Linked DNA regions of Homo sapiens. The protein of the gene in region 1 interacts with the protein of each later gene in a biochemical or structural test. Each region holds a gene or a part of one and is shown on either strand. Other genes may lie near its edges. The genes, in order: ASCL1 and MEF2A.

What was found.
Region 2: the proteins of ASCL1 (region 1) and MEF2A form a complex in vitro, tested with the Homo sapiens proteins (one study listed by BioGRID).

The regions. Positions count from the first base shown.
Region 1 is NC_000012.12:102,953,163-102,962,287, forward strand, and holds ASCL1 (achaete-scute homolog 1), read left to right. Parts: upstream 1-4,511; 5' UTR 4,512-5,082; coding exon 5,083-5,793; 3' UTR 5,794-5,840; intron 5,841-6,199; 3' UTR 6,200-7,351; downstream 7,352-9,125.
Region 2 is NC_000015.10:99,636,539-99,649,208, reverse strand, and holds part of MEF2A (myocyte-specific enhancer factor 2A), read right to left. Parts: intron 3,649-12,670; coding exon 3,445-3,648; intron 1-3,444. UniProt on the Homo sapiens protein: Transcriptional activator which binds specifically to the MEF2 element, 5'-YTA[AT](4)TAR-3', found in numerous muscle-specific genes. Also involved in the activation of numerous growth factor- and stress-induced genes.

The DNA.
Region 1 (9,125 bases):
TCCATTGCTTCTGGAACTCAAGTCACCCCCAAATTGAGGATTACACTTAAAATCCTGTAACAAAATCCAGAATCCAAGACTTGTGTTCATCTTTGTATTCCCTTTGCCCCTGATTCAGAATCTAACTAAAGTTAAAAATATAACTTTATTAAATTATTTGTCCAATGAAAATCCTAGTTTCACTTTTAATATCAATCCCTCTCCCCAAAGAGAAAGCATAAATTGGTTTTCAAAGAGATGAGTCATATCTTCTTTTTACAGAGAGACAACACACAATCAAGAGAACATACATAGGTCTTGAGCTTCAGCAAAGGTGGTACTGGCCTGGCCTTCAGCTGTGAATGGAAATTAAGGTGGCAGGAGACTCAGGGCACAGGGTCTCTGATCTCAGGGCAGCAGACCCCTTTGGCCACTAGGAAAGCCATCTCCCCCTACAGATCCTGATGCTGAATGAAGATAAAGTCTAATCTGAAGTATGGTTCAGCTCCAGAGTGTTCTGATATAGGAAAGGGGTCTGAAGGTGCAGAAATTAAGTCCCTTATTGTATTGGAGGAGAAAGAGAAGCCTTCTTATCTTTCTGCAATGTCTGTACTCTGGGTGATACTCACCAAAGGGGATCAGTGCTTTGTCCTTCCCACTCCCCCACCCTCATGACAAGACAGAACACTGAATGCTGCTATTCGGAAAAAGTGAAAAGGCAATCTCTGATATGTGGAGAGACTTGCAAAGCAAATTACCCAACAACATCTGATTTAATTCTCATAACACCCTTGACATACAGGCAAAGGGAGTACTACCACCTCATTTATGAATGAAGGTATCAAACCTTCCTTTTGTGAGTTGTTTACTTCTCCCTTCATGTGAAGATAAATGGGACATTGTTCAAGTGTCTTAGCCAACTAAAGCCCTAAGGACTTGCTCAGAATCAGGCCCACTGTGTGGCAAGGGAGCCAAGAAAGCAGGGCCCAGTGGCTCTGCTGAAGCCCCTTGCATGTGGAGGCCACAGAACATCTCTATAGTCTATCTTACTTGCTACTTTTCATGTCTAAAAATCGGGTTACTATCTCCATCATCTTAATATGCCAGTATCACCACCATTTCTCAAAAATGACAGGAATGACTCACCCCTAGGTGCTGGGACAGTGAGACAGAGTGGCACTGGATCTCCATTGGCTGGAGTGATGATCACAGAGTGGTTCCAGGAAGCCAAGTGCTGAGGCTCCTCCTGCCACACACCCTTTCCTGGGTGGGTTGTGTGAGCATGACTTTCTTATTAATCCCTTTCTCTTTAGACCTGGGCTAGAGTGCTCTACATACATATCATTGAAGTCTCACAACTCTTGGAGGTAGATACTATAATTACTGGCATAGGTGAAATAGAGACCCCTAGAGTGTCTCAGGGTCACACAGCTCTCAGGTAAAGGGGCCTAGATACCAAGTCAAATCAGCCTGCTTTATCTGGAATTCCATGGGCCTAGGAGAGCAGAACATGTGGCCAGTTCTCTCAGGTCGGGAGGAGGGATTATAATCTAGGTCACACAGTCAGAGGCAGGATTCTAATTTTGGCTCCTGAGCCTCCCATCTTTTGCTTCACACTGGTGAAAACAACCAGAAAGCCAATATCAATGGAAAACTCTCTTGGTAGAATCCCCAAGGATAGAAATGCAAACCTCTAAAGAAAAATTATAGACTGTTCTACCCTAGGGTTGGAGGAGAAAGTGGAGATGACAGTGTTGAGGTGCAAACTCCAGGTTTACTTGAGTGGGGGGAGGAGAACGCCTCGGTTCTTGGAAGGCTTTGCAAAGCATGTAAGGAAGAAAACTTAGCATACTAGGGTGAGAAGAGTGAGGTCAGGCTCAGGGCTGGCATAGGGAGAATAGAGACAAATGTTCTGGCGGTTTTGGCCAGAAGGATCCCAGCAACGACTGTCCTTCCTCCTGGCCTGAGGCCAATGAGTAAGGCCACTACAAGACAAGGCTTCTTCACTACAATGCACTTCCACTCCATTTGGGCACCCATTTCATGGTGTGTGTAGGGGGGAGGAGGAGAGGAGGTTCTGTCCTCTACTTCCCTGGTATTGAGATCTCTGTGTATGCATCCTGGAAAAGGAAACACGTGCTGGCTACCAGCAAATTTTCTAAGCTGTTAGATACAAGTTTCAAAATTAGCTACTGTACATCCCTTGTGTGTAGATCAGAAAACTGAGGCCAGTAGAGGCAGAGGGACTTGTTCAAGGTTATAAGGCACCATTGTGGTAGAGCTCAGACTCGGGACCTTTGTGAAGTGAGTCCAAGTTAGTAGGGAGTTTGGGGCTCATGTTTCAGCTTAATGTAAAAGAAAACACATCTAGATGCTTCCACATTTGCGACACTCCCTCCCACCCCCAACACTCAACTATTTGGCTGAAATAGAGTGAATGGGGCATTAGGACACAGCTGGGTCATGTGGGAGGTGGGTAAGGAGTGCCTGAATAATTCCTATTTCTGCAAGTGGTCTGAGGCTTACTCTGGCTGGGAGGTGCAGGGTGCCCAGGCTGTGTTGTGACTCTGCTTTTGGGTGCTCACCTCCTATACTTCCAGAGACCTCTTAGGCCCTTTCCTTGGTCAGGGATGTGGAGAAAGGCCTGAGGTGTGAATCCCACGGGGTTCAGCCAGTCCTGTGAGGCCATCAAGCCACAGGTTACCATGGGGAGAAGGGGCTGTGTGGCTGGGAAAGGTTACAGAATTGACCTCTGTTGGCACGATTTGGTCCTATACCTCTGAAGCCTACCTATTCTGCAAAGATGAAACTGAGGTAGAGAAGAGAGGTGATTCACTTCGGGAGCCGCCCGTCATTACTGCCCACCATCATCACTATTGTTCCAGAAACACTCAGCCAGCCCACATACCAAGAGCAGCTCCCTGGGTCATCCCCTTGGCCCTTTAGAAAGATCCACCTCCACAAAGGGGAGTTCAATTAGAACCAATTATCCGGATAATTCACCACAATCATTCCTGCACCCAGATCTCGGATTATTTCTACTGGAAAATCAAATGGATGATTGCCCTCCACTTCGTTCTGCCTATGTAGACAAGACCTGAGACATGCCCCAGCCTCTCTCCGGACCAGATCCTTAAAGAGATGGGGCCTATTGCTTGGTCTGCTTTCTCCGCAGCGCCGCGTCCCCAGACGTCCTGAAGCTGGACGGGGTTCTGGCCAGAGAGCGCCAGGGCCGAAGGCCCAGGAAGGACGCCTGGGCAGGCGCTGTCCAAGCGGTCGAGCGACGGCTGCAAGCGCCTCCCCCTCCCTCTCGGCGCCAGCACGCGGCCCCGCCGGGCTCCGCTCCCAGTCGCCTGCCACCGGGCCGCCGGGCACACGCCTGGGGCGGGATGGTGGCTGCGCCAAGGCCGCCGAGGTGCCCGCGGCGGCGCCGAAGAACCAGGAATCCCCACCAGTGCCCTAAGCGCCATCACTCAACCCCCGCCCCGCATCTTTCTTCTCCGAGGGTCTGGGAGTATCCCAGAGCACTCCCTTCTTTATGATATCCGCTAAGCTGGTCCGGAAATAATCTTTATGGGGAGGGGGTGGCGGTAGGGGGCGATGGTACAGGGGGCCAGAGGTCATCCTAGGGGGACGTCCCTGCCATATACACCCACCTACAGGACGGCTCACAACCACTCCTCGGTGTCGCTTCCCCGCGGCCCCCCACACACTTGCTCAGTTATGGGGAGCACATCCTAGTTTTTAGAGCTGAATGGGACATTAGAGACCATATTCTGTGGCTGCAGACGAGGAAGCGAAGGCTCAGAGAGGATGCCACTTCGAGGAGCCACAGAGCATTGAGAGGACGCCTTGGGACTAGAACCCACGTTTTCACATAGTCCAGCACTTTTTTTCACTGTTCTGGACGGAGTCCCTCCCCCAACCATGTTTCTAAACTTCAATCGTAATTTGCTCCAATTTCTAGGGTCACCGAGGAACCCGAAGAGAATAACAGTGAGGAGAGAGAGAAAACAGGAAAAGTCGAGCCCCACTCCCTCCTCACCTCCACACCGTTCCTGTGCCATTTTTTCTGCCCAAACCCTTCCCTGCGCTTTGCTTCAAGTTCTTAGTAGAATCCAAGAGAGCTTCACCCCAAGTCTTTCCACCTATACACCTCAATTCCTAGAGCCATTTGTCCCTCCTGTGACGCCCCCCACCCCCTTCCTAAAGCCACCCCCGGCAGCAGCCCGCCCCGAGCGCGCCGCCTGTTTATTCAGCCGGGAGTCCGGCACGCGCCAGGCGCACGCACTGCAACAACAAACCCAGCTGAATGGAGAGTTTGCAAGGAGCGGGAGAAAGGAACGGGAGGGGGGGAGAGGAGAGGAGGAGGGGGAGTTTAGGGAGTGGGTGGGAGGAAGAGGTAAGAGGAGGGGGGGGAGTGGGGGCTGCAGCCGCTCGCTGCAGCAGCGGGGAGTGGGGGGCGAGGCGGGGCCAGGGCTGCGCGTGGGGCTGGGTGTCCCATTGAAAAGGCGGACGCACTCCGGCAGCCCAGCACTCTCTCACTTCTGGCCAGGGAACGTGGAAGGCGCACCGACAGGGATCCGGCCAGGGAGGGCGAGTGAAAGAAGGAAATCAGAAAGGAAGGGAGTTAACAAAATAATAAAAACAGCCTGAGCCACGGCTGGAGAGACCGAGACCCGGCGCAAGAGAGCGCAGCCTTAGTAGGAGAGGAACGCGAGACGCGGCAGAGCGCGTTCAGCACTGACTTTTGCTGCTGCTTCTGCTTTTTTTTTTCTTAGAAACAAGAAGGCGCCAGCGGCAGCCTCACACGCGAGCGCCACGCGAGGCTCCCGAAGCCAACCCGCGAAGGGAGGAGGGGAGGGAGGAGGAGGCGGCGTGCAGGGAGGAGAAAAAGCATTTTCACTTTTTTTGCTCCCACTCTAAGAAGTCTCCCGGGGATTTTGTATATATTTTTTAACTTCCGTCAGGGCTCCCGCTTCATATTTCCTTTTCTTTCCCTCTCTGTTCCTGCACCCAAGTTCTCTCTGTGTCCCCCTCGCGGGCCCCGCACCTCGCGTCCCGGATCGCTCTGATTCCGCGACTCCTTGGCCGCCGCTGCGCATGGAAAGCTCTGCCAAGATGGAGAGCGGCGGCGCCGGCCAGCAGCCCCAGCCGCAGCCCCAGCAGCCCTTCCTGCCGCCCGCAGCCTGTTTCTTTGCCACGGCCGCAGCCGCGGCGGCCGCAGCCGCCGCAGCGGCAGCGCAGAGCGCGCAGCAGCAGCAGCAGCAGCAGCAGCAGCAGCAGCAGGCGCCGCAGCTGAGACCGGCGGCCGACGGCCAGCCCTCAGGGGGCGGTCACAAGTCAGCGCCCAAGCAAGTCAAGCGACAGCGCTCGTCTTCGCCCGAACTGATGCGCTGCAAACGCCGGCTCAACTTCAGCGGCTTTGGCTACAGCCTGCCGCAGCAGCAGCCGGCCGCCGTGGCGCGCCGCAACGAGCGCGAGCGCAACCGCGTCAAGTTGGTCAACCTGGGCTTTGCCACCCTTCGGGAGCACGTCCCCAACGGCGCGGCCAACAAGAAGATGAGTAAGGTGGAGACACTGCGCTCGGCGGTCGAGTACATCCGCGCGCTGCAGCAGCTGCTGGACGAGCATGACGCGGTGAGCGCCGCCTTCCAGGCAGGCGTCCTGTCGCCCACCATCTCCCCCAACTACTCCAACGACTTGAACTCCATGGCCGGCTCGCCGGTCTCATCCTACTCGTCGGACGAGGGCTCTTACGACCCGCTCAGCCCCGAGGAGCAGGAGCTTCTCGACTTCACCAACTGGTTCTGAGGGGCTCGGCCTGGTCAGGCCCTGGTGCGAATGGACTTTGGAAGCAGGTAGGTTGCATTTTGGGGTGGGCAGGGGGGTATTCTTGCCTTCGTCCTCCCTCTGAGTGTCTGTGGAAGTGGGGATGTCTCCAAGGAGATAAGGGGATTTTTATTTAAAGAATTTGTGAAAGTTGGTCGATTTCAAGTCCTAGTTTGTTAGTTTCAGCACTGGCCTCTGAAAATGGCCTTGCCCAGGTCTCCAAGGAGTGAAGGGTAGTAGTGAGGTGCAGAGATACTGGTGAACCGAATACTGGGACATGTTAAAAGAGATGTCTACCTGACAGACTCTTTCCCCAGACCTCCATCTCCCTCTACCACTAGCCTACACGTTCAAATTAACCTCTCCTGTTCTTTTCCTTATGTTATAGGGTGATCGCACAACCTGCATCTTTAGTGCTTTCTTGTCAGTGGCGTTGGGAGGGGGAGAAAAGGAAAAGAAAAAAAAAAGAAGAAGAAGAAGAAAAGAGAAGAAGAAAAAAACGAAAACAGTCAACCAACCCCATCGCCAACTAAGCGAGGCATGCCTGAGAGACATGGCTTTCAGAAAACGGGAAGCGCTCAGAACAGTATCTTTGCACTCCAATCATTCACGGAGATATGAAGAGCAACTGGGACCTGAGTCAATGCGCAAAATGCAGCTTGTGTGCAAAAGCAGTGGGCTCCTGGCAGAAGGGAGCAGCACACGCGTTATAGTAACTCCCATCACCTCTAACACGCACAGCTGAAAGTTCTTGCTCGGGTCCCTTCACCTCCTCGCCCTTTCTTAAAGTGCAGTTCTTAGCCCTCTAGAAACGAGTTGGTGTCTTTCGTCTCAGTAGCCCCCACCCCAATAAGCTGTAGACATTGGTTTACAGTGAAACTATGCTATTCTCAGCCCTTTGAAACTCTGCTTCTCCTCCAGGGCCCGATTCCCAAACCCCATGGCTTCCCTCACACTGTCTTTTCTACCATTTTCATTATAGAATGCTTCCAATCTTTTGTGAATTTTTTATTATAAAAAATCTATTTGTATCTATCCTAACCAGTTCGGGGATATATTAAGATATTTTTGTACATAAGAGAGAAAGAGAGAGAAAAATTTATAGAAGTTTTGTACAAATGGTTTAAAATGTGTATATCTTGATACTTTAACATGTAATGCTATTACCTCTGCATATTTTAGATGTGTAGTTCACCTTACAACTGCAATTTTCCCTATGTGGTTTTGTAAAGAACTCTCCTCATAGGTGAGATCAAGAGGCCACCAGTTGTACTTCAGCACCAATGTGTCTTACTTTATAGAAATGTTGTTAATGTATTAATGATGTTATTAAATACTGTTCAAGAAGAACAAAGTTTATGCAGCTACTGTCCAAACTCAAAGTGGCAGCCAGTTGGTTTTGATAGGTTGCCTTTTGGAGATTTCTATTACTGCCTTTTTTTTTCTTACTGTTTTATTACAAACTTACAAAAATATGTATAACCCTGTTTTATACAAACTAGTTTCGTAATAAAACTTTTTCCTTTTTTTAAAATGAAAATAATCAGCTGACTCTAAGCTTTCTTTGACTCTGATGCCCCTGGTCCAGTTTTATGAAAATGTCAAAGGGAAGAGGTGGATGGAGAAGAAAATGTTGCAAAACATGCTAAGTGGCAGAAATGACAATGATAAGTGCTATGGCCAGTCCCATCCAAATGGTTTCTTTATGATGAATGAGTGTGTGTTTGTGTGTGTGTGTGTGTGTGTGTGTATGTACATGTATATATGTTTTCTTTCTATCCTATGCTGCAAATGTACATGCCCACCAAAAAGAATAGATGGCTGCATTATCCTTTGATCAAAATTTAAAATCCCCCAAAAAAGTGAACCAGAAAGAGAGGGTCCTCCACCATTTTCCAATTCTCAACTCCATTCTGAGTTTCTCCCTGTGAAACTATGGTGGGGCTGGATGAAATAATGGAGACTAGGTCTGGGTGGGGAGGATGGTGGTTCTGGGATGGGGGTTGGAGAGGCATCCCTCTCCACATACAAGCTCCTAGTGGTGAGTATGTTTCTCTTCCCTCACTTCCAGGCATACATTTTCTACTCATTTTCTCCAATACACCTACTTGCTATATTGATTTTAAGTAAGAGGCATATATGATATGAATTCATTCCAAACGGATTGAGATTTTAATTAAAAAAACGCATTAGAAATGTGTGGTCGCTTTGAGACACTGGTCTATCTAAGCTTGTGACTCTATCCGAATAGCGTGAGCTGCGTGTAAAAGTACCCAATTACCAAGATTCAAAAAGAAATTGGTGGGTTTTTGGCTGGCTTGCTTCTTGTCAGTTAGCAAGGACGTGATTAGAATCCTACTCGGCCTCTCGCCGGCTCCTCGCTCGCCGCCTGCATTACTTGCAGATTCAGTTTGCGTGTCTCCAGCCAAGCGGAAAGCCGAGCGCAAAATGCATCTTACAAAACCCAACAAAGAACGGGTAGCCAGCACGTCTTCCAGAGTTAAAAATCTAGTCTGTGTTGGTACATCTATACCATTTAGTGGCACAGAATAATCATTTTTTAAAGCCACGATGCGCGGAGCACGCCACAGCGTCTGATGTCATTTTGCTAAATGACCCTCTATAGAATGCACATTGAGGCTTCAGTCCCTTTCAAAGAGATGAGCGTAATTAAGGAAAAAAAATCAGTAAATTCCTCATCGCCATAAATAATCGGACTTTCTGCCAGCAGTGGGCCAATTTAGAGCTTACTTGAGAGAAGTAATGCTTTTGTGATGCCTGCTTTTATTTTTATCTTCTCATTTGGAGGACCAGAGATGGGCTCCACCCCCACTCTCCATTTCTCTTTCCTTTAATTTAGCTCCTTTGCAAGATTCCAGATAAGGTATGCAAAGAAAGTGTAGCAAGTCATTTATGGCTATGAATATAACATTAGGATAATGTTTCAGCCCCCACAAAGGGGGATTTTTTTTTCCTTCTCCTGTGAGGACAGGTGTTCTTTACTCACTTCTGAATGGGAAATATCCAGTCTCGTTAAACTCGAGGCAAAGTTAGTCGTTGTTTGCCACAATGCGAAGGCAAACTCGAAAAATTCACAAAAACACACACAATTTTGCCTAAGCTAGGAAAGGGCAAAGCGAGGATTGGGCAAAATCTCATTACATCTGCTCTAATCGCTTAGCAACACAAAGCCGGGGCTTGTGCGGCGAAGGGAAGCCATTCACAGAGCTCTGACAGGCCGCATTCAGCGCGCGTTAGTCAGCTCCATAAATCACCGCTGCCCATTGGCTGCGCGGCGGGCTTTGGAGCGGCCC
Region 2 (12,670 bases), on another chromosome or scaffold:
TGCAGACCTTAATTTAAAATACCTAAATGCAATTTAAAATATGTAAGTACAAATTAAAAAAATAAACCTGTATAGAATTTTTTAAATTTTATCAACTCTAACCAAAGTTTAAAAAATTGATTAAAATTTTAAATTTAAGAACTAGTTTAAAAACATAATTAATATAAAATGAGGCAGAACAAAGATAGATGGATTTAAGTTTATACATAAAATTGAAACACAGAAAAATAAGAGCACCATTTCTACCTATTTATAATCAACAATATTCAAATACCAACTACTTTTAATACATTATATTAATCTTACAGTACTCCCACAAAACACACTATATCTAACTCCGCAGACCTAATACACGTGCGTCCTGTACTACAGACTACACAGGTGAGGCTGACAGCACATCCTCACAGCACATCCTCAAAGGGCTTGTGTATTGGATGCAACAGAAGAGGAACACATCTAATGAAGACGCCATGTTAATATACTCAAGACTCTGTCAAAGCATATTTCAGTAATATAGGGAAAGTAAAATCCTGCTGATTTTTTAAAGACTAACATATATGCAAACGGAAATATGTGGAGTCAGGTTATAGGCCTTATGGAAGTTGTTGTTTTCAGAGTTTGTGTCATTATTGCTTACATAATGACACAAACTCTTAAGTATATTGGTCATATACTTTAGAAATCACTCTAAAGTAGATCACTTATAACTGTTCATGCCTCTATTTTATCCTGATGTTTTCAACCACATGAGATGGCTAAGGAGTCCAGAAGCTTATCACCAACTTGTTCAAAGTTCTTATAAATATACATAAAATCTTCAGTTGGTAAAAGTATACCTCAATGGTTTATAAAAATATGGGTAGGAAGAATATTCTTCTGGCCTGAATTAGGAATCTCTAAATAAGATCAACTTGCAAAGCACATAGAACCCCCTCAAATCTTTGTCAAATGAGTAAATGGGCATCAAAAAGCCTGCTTCCCATCAATACAACTGCCTGAAAGGAAACTGTGAAAAGGAAAAAATGGTATTCCAAAAATATCCTTCAATGAGGCAACTGTAAAGTACTTTGTAAAAACTAAGACCCATAGGAAGCTCTATGTAAGTAACTTCATTACTGTTATCCTGTAAATTTAATTTGAACCATAGCAAACTGTATAGATGCATTAGCGTAAGCCATTACACTACTGGCAAAAAGAACTCGTATGTGAATTGCACTACTAGTGAAGATGTAGGCTGCATCATCTTCATATGTGAAAAAAGGCCTATCTCACAAGCTTAACAACCACTCTCTTAATAAAAGTTGACTCAGTAAGACATTAATATACAAGAAGTGTGAATTAAGCCTTGTAATTTATCCTACCACAATAAATTAATCCCTAATAATCTAATGTGTCTTCTATCTACTGTATTTATATAATTTAGAACTTCACAAGGAACTATTAACACGATTCATTTTAACTTATTTTGAGGAAATGCAATTAAAAAGAAAACATCAAAATCCCAATATGTAATTGAGCCGCAAAAGTTTTCCTTCATATTGAAACAGACTGTAATATAGGAGACTGCTTAAAAAAATGTTTGGGATCTGCTCTCTTACACTTTGCTGTCCACAACAGAGATGAAGATTGAGGTAGTCTGAAAATTCTATGAGGATTAAATCAGACTACATTCTCCGTATTCTCTAGGGAAGTAAGCTTTAGGCAGTGTGAAGTACCCTCAACCTCCACGGACCAAGAATAACAACTGCTGCAATGAAAGAGCAGTGTAGTTAGGGTTAAGGAGGTGGTTGCCTCTATAATGAAATTAGCTAGAATACTTATTTGCTGACATTATCAAAGTCAGCTCCATTGGTTTGAGTTGAGGCAGTGTAACTTTTGATGAGACATATAGATTTATAAGATAAGAAGCTATTTTAAACACAACAGGGTTACTCTCCATTTCAAGGAAATCCAGTTATGAAGTCTCTTAACAAAGCTTACCTGAATGATACCCTAATTTACAATATTACAATACAAAATGTATTCATGACATGTAATAGGGGAAAGGTCTACTATACAGTATTATAAATAAATGATAACATATAACATAACTGCTAAATAATATAATTTATAAATGACATAAATATAACTGCATTAAGGGGTTTAGCTAAAGATATAACCATGTAGTTTAATCAAAGTTATCAACAAAAGCAAAATAAAAAATTTCATATACAATTCAGGGGAGGTTAACAGCAGTGAGCCCCATAAATAAAACTATGGATAAGTCAAGCAACAGAGATGAGTCCTAGCTGTAATTATGCTATACCTTTACTTCTCATTTGAAAAAATGACTAAAAAGTAACAAAAGCTGTTTTTAAAATACAAGTAATAGTTTTTATGTGTGTAGTAATGGTATCAATCACTGCCTGAAGAGGGACAGTTAAGGCAAAGAAGTATAGGGGAAATTTAAAATGCATTTTCGGAACAATAACAACTTGAGGAGGCAAATAAATTAGATTCCTATACAACAAAACAGCTAAATTATCTTTAATTTTAAATATTAGAAATACCATCTAGATTAGGACTCCATTTGTTCTTTTTCAATTGTTCTACATAATCCTCACATGGTTTCAGTACTTTCACCAAAGAAATGCCTAATACTTTTCTATTACAAACTAAGCCAAAATATGCATCTTTCAAGTAATAAAAAATTCCTCCACTGAATAAATATAAAACCTCCAAATATAAACAAAAGAGACAAAAGTAACTATGAAGCTAATTTAAAATGTGATTAGAAATACACATGGAAAAGTTATCTTATGGAAGATCTTGAAAGAGAGAAGATAAAAAGGGGGAAGCATACTGGTTTCCATTTTGAAGGTTTTATTGTAAAACACTATTTCTGAGAAGATCATTCTAATAATAAATCCTTTTCTTTTTCACTTAATTAGGTTGGGAGAACTATGAGAGCTATCAAATAGGCAGCAGATAAACAAAGAAAATGAGGACTTTCTCCTGTTGCCCAACTAAAACACTATTAACAAAGCAAATATTATTTACATAATTGTCATTGTTTTCTTAAGTGTTTAAAGTTGTGAGCTGTCAATGACATAATGAAATGATTAAGACATACCAAAACTGTAACTTCATACTGTCCAAAAATGATAGTCTCTTACAATATTAATTTTAAAACTCATACAAAATAAGTAATCATAGATGAAATGTTAAGATTATGCTGGTATACATGGTAAAACAACATAGTTTACTTTGTCTGAATGAATAGAGTATGTTTATAACACAAGTGAGTCGCCATACAGCAATCACTCTTCTAAGAAATGATTTAGAGAAAAGATACATATACACCTAATTTATGTTTTAGATGTACAAGTCATTCTGACAGTTAATGCTATTAAACAAAATATTTCAGTATTACTTGCAATTCACGTATTACTAGATATGTGTTACCTCAACAATATCCGAGTTGGTTCTGCTTTCATGAGGTTCATTATATTCTGTATACTTGAGAAGAACTTTGTCCATATCAGTGCTAGCATATTGAAACAGTTTGTTAGAGCTGTTGAAAATGATGAGTGCTATTTCACAGTCACAGAGCACACTAAGTTCATAGGCTTTCTTCATTAATCCAAACTTTCTCTTTGTAAAAGTGACCTAAACAATAAAAAAGGTATATTTTTATTAAAAGCATTAGTAGTACTTGAATATGGGCTATCTGAAGATGAATCTTCTTCTTAATACTGAGCCAGATTTCAAAGATGGAAAAGGTTCCCAGCTTTGTCCTCCATATGAGCCTTCCCTCTCCTGTTGTGCTACAGTCCTACATTTGTTTTGTATATGCCAAGTTCTCCGACAGAGCTGTCTCCTGGGGAAGTATTTCCTTATCCTTGGCTGCCACTCCACTACAGAGGGTGAAGCACCACAGAAGGAACAGTTGATCAGTGTTCCCTTATCATTCAGTTAAAATTGTTACCATCAGAAACCCCAAATCCCAGCCAGGTAATGTAGCATCAGCCAGACTTTGATCCCTAAACAACTAAATACATCCACTAATCTGAAGTATTTCTCCTCCCTCTCAAGCCCTTCTCTATTGTACCCACTGAAATTCACAGTCTGGGATCAGCAAATTCCCCAAAGTCCTCAAATTCTTCTTTAACTGTTTCTTTCTTTAACTGAAACCTGTTACCTGAAATCCTCTCTAACAGAGACCCCCCCAAAAAATTTTTTTATTTACACCCTTTATATTGACTGAAGGCCCTAAAAGAGATGTCTTTTTATGCTCTGTATTCTCTCTTCGACACTACTTTTCTTTCCCTCCCCTTCAAAAACTTCAAATACTCTGAAGCTCATGCCATACAAAAATTATACCACCCAACAACCCTCCTTGGGGTGAGCAAGAGTTACCCTTGATCCCTCTTCTTCTAATACGGGATGGGAAAGGAATGCAAGGGAACTCTCTTTACTTTCTGCTCAATGCTGTTGTGAACCTAAAACTTCTCTAAAACATAAAGTCTGTTTAAAAAACAGTTTTTGAAAGGTCAGTAAGAATATACTTTTGAATAATCTTTGGAATTGTGCAACAACATAAAGTTCAGCAATTTTCCCCATGGATACCTATCATACGATTTTCTTCCTATAAACTTTAACTACTGGCCTAGACTTAAAATCAGTTATTGCAGTAGCTATTAAAGAAGTAGAGGATCTCCAGTATCATGAAAAGCAATTACTACCACTAGAAATTTTTTTCACGGGCATGACTTTAATATCCTCTTTCATTACAGATACAATACGTACATGTAAAAGCAAAACAACAACAAAATTCATTTCACATGTACAATTCAATGATGTTTCTGTATTTTTTCAGTCTATTTCCTATGTAGCATGATAAAATTAAACAGTGGTATAGTAGTTCAATGGTTTTCACTAAATTTAAGCAGAGTATCTGTTTTCTCCCTATAGTAACACCAAATGCATTTAACATCTACTCATCTTAGCATTTAATCACCTTAATCCCTCTTAATTTTATGTAGATCTAATCTCTTTAACAGTCTCAAAACCTTATGTTTTCTCTGTATTTGTCAAGTGCACAAAGCACAATACTCCACGTATTATATGACCGCTCAAATATTCTGTTAGCTAGTAAACTGAATGAAAATAGAGTTGAGAAGGTTCTTTAAATATTCATTTAACAAGAAAATTTAACTAGCCAATACCATCTAGTCTGTTCATGATACATATTTACATGTAAATTGTGTCATATACCCAAATCACCTTTTATGAATCATCTTTGAATACTGGTCTATATTTGATACTTTAAAATTCTCAGCAGGGCACGGTGGCTCACGCCCGTAATCCCAGCACTTTGGGAGGCTGAGGCAGGCGAATCACGAGCTCAGGAGATGGAGACCATCTTGGCTAACACTACGAAACCCCGTCTCTACTAAAAACACAAAAAATTAGCCGGGCGTGGTGGTGGGCGCCTGTAGTCCCACCTACTCGGCAGGCTGAGGCAGGAGAATGGCATGAACACTGGAGGCAGAGCTTGCAGTGAGCCGAGATCGCACCACTGCACTCCAGCCTGGGCGACAGAGCGAGACTCCATCTCAAAAAAAAAAAAAAAAATTCTCAATATAAAACAGAAATTACAAGTAGAAAAACCTCCGCATCTGTTGATGTACTTGTTTTTACAAATACATTTGGGAACAAACAAAAACAAAATAGAATACAATGGAGGAAAGCAATAAGGAAAGGAATGAAAAATACTATCACTTATGACATGAGTATATGCCTAGAAGATTAGATTATAACAAAATATAACAAGTCACAAAGCAAGAAAACAAGCTGTTAAGAGTACATTTTCCCTTGATTTTAGTGTTTTCAGTTCAAAGTAAGTTTTTGGTTGTCATACAGAGATTTTCCTTCTACATACTAGCTTTCTAAGACATCTAAAAGTGAAAAATCAGTAAAAGCCAACTAATTAGTAGAGTGTTAATTAGTATTTTACAATACAGCCACGTTTCAGTTCATAAATTTGACATGAAAGAGGTAACGTAATCTAAAATTAGGCTACAGAATACTAACTACATAATTAAAACTCAAGACTCAACTTTATTATTCTAAGACAATATTTTTAAACTGATTTCAATTACATTAAAATGATGTAAATTCTTTATATTAACTTCAAAAGAAATCACAAAAGTTAGTTTTAAATTCAAAATGGAATAAAGTCATGTTTACTCCTCTCTACTCCTCTAAAAACATGGACACATACATACATACACATACATAATACTAAAAAAGAGACTGGGTTTTCTTCAAGGAAAGTAAGAATCCCTAACTACAAATTTTCATCTGCCAGATTTGGTGAAATTTAGAAGAAAATGAAAGTGGATTCAGAGAATTCACACTGAGTTCTTCACAAAAGTGGCAGTGTCCTCTGAGAGGATCCTCTGATTAGTGCTACAAGATTCACAAGTATCAGAAGCCCATGAAATAAGTGAAGAATCTTGTTCTAAATGTAGAATGCCAGGGAAGGTGAAACCAAAATAAATAAAGAAAATAATTTTATAGGAAAGCTATTTCTGTTAACTCATACTTAATATAATTGCCAAAAACTGTCAGAGATAACAGATCTAAAATGTGAGCTGGTATGGCTCGGAAATGAATGAGAAGAGAAAAAAAATCAAATCATAACAGAGATTTTTAGCACAATAATGAAAATCAAAGAATCAAAACAGAAAACTAAAATGAATAGAAAAAAGTTGTTTGTATTGTTGACAGATAATGAAGATACCAAAAAAGCCCAGAGCATTTAGCAAAGGAAAAATATTTATTAAAAAATAAAATACAGAAAGGCATACAATCTCTCAAAAAAGTGATAAGGAATAATCAAATTCATGGCATATTCAGATTAAGTTACTGAATGTCAAGGTCAAAGAAAGAATACCATGTACACCAAGGAAGGAAGTGAGTGACTTTTAAGAAGGGAAAAAACTCAGTCTGGTGTTAGAATTCTGGCAACATTCAAAGTCAGAAGACCAAATCTCTACGATGTTCTGGGGAAAAGAAATAGGGCCTATACCTAGAACGTTAGACCTAGCCAAGTCAGACTTCAAGTATAAAGACAATAAACATTTTCAAACATAAAAAAACTCAGGAAGTATAACACCTACAAGCCCTTGTTAGGGGCAAAAAAACCAACAAGCATTACTTGCTGAAAAAACAAAAACAAACAAACAAAAAAAACCAGTCATCTGAGTAGAACATAAGTTGAAAAAAGTTCAATGCTGCACGCTCAGCTTCTAAAACAAAGCTACTGTGTGGCAGTGAGGCGGTGCTAAACAAATTTGTTGAATAAATCTGTAAAGGAATAATGAAGAAAAAGTGAGAAACCCCAGAGGGTATGCTGGAAAATGTACGGGGTCAGGGATGTGGAGGCTTGTAGCCTGGAGAAGAAATCGGCCAGTGGGATTATGAGAAGACAAATTTTTTAAGACAGAGTCTCACTCTGTCGCCCAGGCTGGAGTGCAAGTGGCACGATCTCGACTCACTGCAAGCTCCGCCTCCCGAGTTCATGCCGTTCTCCTGCCTCAGCCTCCCGAGTAGCTGGGACTACAGGCACCTGCCACCACGCCTGGCTAATTTTTTGTATTTTTTAGTAGAGACAGGTTTCACCGTGTTAGCCAGGATGGTCTCGATCTCCTGACCTCGTGATCCGCCCGCCTCGGCCTCCCAAAGTGCTGGGATTACAGGTGTGAGCCAACGCGCCCGGCCGAGAAGACAAATTTTTAAAACAGCAGTTTGGGTTCAGCTTGTGCTTCTCACCTCCGCTGCCTGGAACACTCAATGCCTGCTACATCACAAGAGAACTGGCAGCCATGCTGATGCAGACAGACGCCCTCCAGAATGAAACCTGGGCAGTACAAAAGCTCTGCTGGAGATAGGAGTTGAAGACATCAGGTAGAAACTGACTAACCTCTGGCAGGGTGACTTCTCAACCATTCTTACTCAGAACCTCCACGTTTGGTGGATTGCCAGGTAGATGAAATATCTTCTTCCGATGTCCTCTTCCCTGGGGGGCTCTGTGTGGAGCTGCAATCAGAGTTCTTTGCGGACACTATGGCTTTTTCGACGGCTGGGACCCGCTAACCCATTTATATGATCGACTGGGATCACGCAAACTAGTGCAAATACGTGCGAGATCACAGGGAATAAACATCAACTAGACTGGTGGGTTAAGAGATGGATCAAACTAGATAAAAAACCAATATGCAGCCTCTCATACTATCTATAAAAGACATACCTAAAACATAAGGAAACAGTAAGGTTGAAAGATAACACAGAGTTTCAGACCTCCAAGAAAACACTGGCTGGGCGCCGTGGCTCACACTATAATCCCAGCACTTTGGGAGGGCCAGGTGGGAGGATCACTTGAGCTCAGGAGTTCAAGACCAGTCTGGGCAACATGGTGAGACCTCACCTCTGCAAAAAGTACAAAAATTAGCCAGGCATGGTGCGCATACCCATGTTACTCTGGAGGCTGAAGCAGGAGGATTGCTTGAGCACAGGAGGTCAAGGCTGCAGTGAGCCATGATCATGCCAATGCACTCTGGCCTGGGTGACAGAGCAAGACCCTGTCTCAAAAAAAAAAAAAAAGAAAAGAAAGAAAAGAGGGGAGGGGAGAAAGGGAGTGAAGGAGGGAGAGAGGGAGGAAGGAAGGAAAAGAAAAAAAGAAAAGGAAAGGAAGAAATATGTAGCTATATCAAGGTGAGGTAAGGTAGATTTAAGACAAACATGCCTTACTGAGGATAAAGATGGTCAATATGTATTGCAAAATTTGCCAAGAAGGTACATCACCTCTAAATATGTGCAAGCCTAACGAAATAGTCCCAAAATGTATAAAACAGTATTATTAAATCAATAAAATATACAGAGAAATTGACAAATCCACCATTGTGGTACATACAATTATTGATAAGTCTCAATGAACAAAAAACAAAAAGTCACAAAGAATACGGAAGGTTAGAACACAACAATGAGAGTTATCTGAAAGATATATGGAGATGCATGCATCCAACAATCAAAGAATACATATTTACCCAACTCCATTCGGAACATTTAAAAAAACCAATCTTGATTTAGGAAATAAAGCAAGTCTTAACACACTTAAAAAGGCTCACAATCTACTGAAATAAGGGCAATATACAACACTATGGTAAGTCCCGTCATAAAAGTGTTTACAAAGTGTTTTGGTAAAGACTGAAAGATACTATCTGAAACAGAGACAATACATACAGAATTAATATCCAGAATATGTAAAGAACTTCTAAGAGAAAAAAACCAAAACCAACAACCCAGCACAAAATAAGCAAACCACAAAAACAGGTTGCATTTCACTTTCCTAAGACCAGAAAAAAGAATAAAATAAAATTTAAAAAGGGACAAAGACAGAAAAAATAGAAAAGAAAGGCAGACAAGACAGAAAGAAGGAAAGGCAAAGTATATGGGCAAATAGGAATTATCATACAAACTTACTGCAGTGTAGCTAGTACAATCACTTTGGAAAGCAACTTGAAAACATGGTAAAGCTGATGATGGACATACTCAGCCTAGCAATTCCTTCTGAAACTATCACAGAGCAACTTTTACCCATGTATAATGAGACAGGTCAACAGATGTATACTGCAACACCATTTATAACAGTAAAAAATTAGAAACAACATAGTTGTTCTTTGATAGAAGTATTGATGAATTAAGAATATTTATTCCTAAAACTAGCTGTATTGAATGAGAGCAGATGGATCTCAAAACACTACACTGAGTGAAAAAGCAAGTGCAAATGAAAACGTCACTATGTAAAACTTTAAACCCATGTTGAAACAATATTAAATAATACCTGTTAAAAAATATAAAGAAAACACAATGTAAATTCATGATAGTGGTTATGAGAAGGAAAGTAGGAAGAGACCAGGAAAAATTATAAAGAGGACAGTAAATCTCTAATTTTTTTCACTTTATGAATAAAAATAAAAATACATATAACAAATGTGTCAGCACTGACATATGTTACTTCTGGATAATGAATATAGCAAACCTTGAAGTATCGTTCTCTGTACTCTACCTTTGGAACCTTTGGAAAAAACTTTTATTTTTAAACTGCTTTCTTTCTTTTTTTTAAGTATATGAGGATGTCTGCTTTTAGGTTAGAGGGAGTAGTTGTTGGAAGACCAAAGAACCCACTGAAATCAACTAGTAAAACAGGATGAAATACAACAAATACCTCTTTAAAGACATCAGAAAGCTGCTAAAGCAGGAAGACTGGAGATGCTAAGATTCTATAATCTCTTTCACATACAAGGTCTGAAGGCTCATTAAAAACCACTAGACATGTCAAAAGACTGCATCGTATAATTGAGAACAAAGAGAAAAAGGGATCAGATATGGACTTACAGGTAATCCAGATATAGCTATTCACAGACATGAACTTAAAGATAACTATGGCTAATATTTAAAAAAAAGCTTAAAAATGGAGAAAATGGATGACAAGATGGGCCATTTCCATAAAAATGAAAAATCAAAAAATTCTAGAATTGAAACTATATTATCAGAAATTAAGAACGTACTAGGCTGTTTTATCAGTTAATTTTAAAAAGCAGGAGAAAGGCTTACTAGAAAATAGATTGCTAGAAAATAACTAGAAAACATTCAAACTGAAGTACAGAGAAAAAAAGAGTAAAAAATACAGGAGGACAAAATACATAAGAAATGTATGGGATACAAAACCGTTATATGTAACTAGAATCCCAGAGAAGGAAAAAAATGGGACACAAGCAATATCTGAAGACACATGCCCCTTGTGGGTCCATCACAGTAAAAATGTATATTAACAAAGGAAAAGCAAAAGGCTTTAAAGCAACAAAAGAAAAGAAAGACACATTATCTTTAAAAAAAAAATTTTTTTTAAGATCAAAAGCTGGCCTCTTAACAGAAATGAATGGAAGTTGGAAGACAACTGCTTCAAAGTACTAAGAGAATAAAACTGCCAATCTAGAATTCTACAACCAATAAAAACAGCTTTCAAAATGATCATACAACTAAAAAACAATTAAAAATTATGCAAAGGATTTGAATAGACATTTTTCCAAGGAAGATATACAAATGTCCAATAAGCACATGAAAAGATGTTCAACATCATTAGCCATCAGAGAAATGCAAACTAAAACCACAAGATACCAGTTTATACCCATCAGGATGGCTACAATAAAAAAGACAGGGCTGGGGGCGGTGGCTCACGCCTGTGATTCCAACACTTTGGGAGGCCGAGGCGGGCAGATCACGAGGTCAGGAGATCAAGACCATCCTGGCTGACACCATGAAACCCCGTCTCTACTAAAAATACAAAAAAATTAGCCGGGCGTGGTGGCAGGCGCCTGTAATCCCAGCTACTCAGGAGGCTGAGGCAGAAGAATGGCACGAACCCGGGAGGCGGAGCTTGCAGTGAGCCGACAGCGTGCCACTGCACTCCATCCTGGGCGACAGAGCGAGACTCCGTCTTACACAGAAAAAAAAAAAAAGACAGACAATAACAAGTGTTGGCTGGGATGTGGAAAACTTAGAATGCTGACACATGGCAGGCAGAAAGCAAAATGGTGCAGCCACTTTGGCAGTCTGGCATTTCCCAAAATGTTAAACTTAAGAGTTACCATGTCATCTAGCAATTCTTAAGTATACTTTTATATACTTAGCAGCAAATATGCAGAAAATAAAATTTGAGAAGAAATGTTAATAATGCTTTAGAAAATCAAATATCTACTAATAAATATAACAAAAATGTAGAAGACTTATTTTGAAAACTATCAGCCATTATGGAGAGAATTAATGAAAACCAAATGAAATACAAACATGTTCATAGATTACAAGACTTGACACTGTAAAGATTTCAATTCTCCCTAAATAGATCCCTACATCCAGTGGAAAAAAAATATCTAAATTCCAGTAGGTTTTTTGTTTTCTTAAGTGAACAATGACACTTGGTTTCATTTGGATATTCTGAAAAAGGGCAAGAATAGTCAGCTGGTTCTGAGAAAAAAAAAAAAAAGGTGCAGAACTACACCACCAGATATCAAATTATAGTAATTAAAACAGTGCAGAATTAAGCAAGGATATACAAATAATCAAATGGAACAAAACAGAGAATTTAGAAACAGTTTCACACACATATGGTTACTCGACTCATGATAAAGGCAACCCTGTCATATAGTGAGGAAAGGATGGTTTTATGCAATAAATTGTACTGGGACAACTAAATATCCATCTGGAAAATAACAAATCCTGACCCCTACACCTCAAACCAAACACAAAAATAAACACCAAATGGATAACAGGTCTAAAACATGAAAGGTTAAAAAAAAAGAGTCCTTACAGAAGAAAGCATAGAAGAATATCTTTATGGCCTTATGGTAAGTAAAGATTTCTTAAACGTGACACAAAAGGCACTACTCATAAAGGAAAGGGAAAAAAAGGTAAATGGGAAACCATTAAAATATTATTGATTTTTTAAAACATTAAGAAAGTGTAGGCCTGGTGTGGTGGCTCATGCCTGTAATCCTAGTGCTTTGGGAAGCCAAGGCAGGAGGATCACTTAAGGCCAGGAGTTCCTGACCAGTCTAGGCGAGAC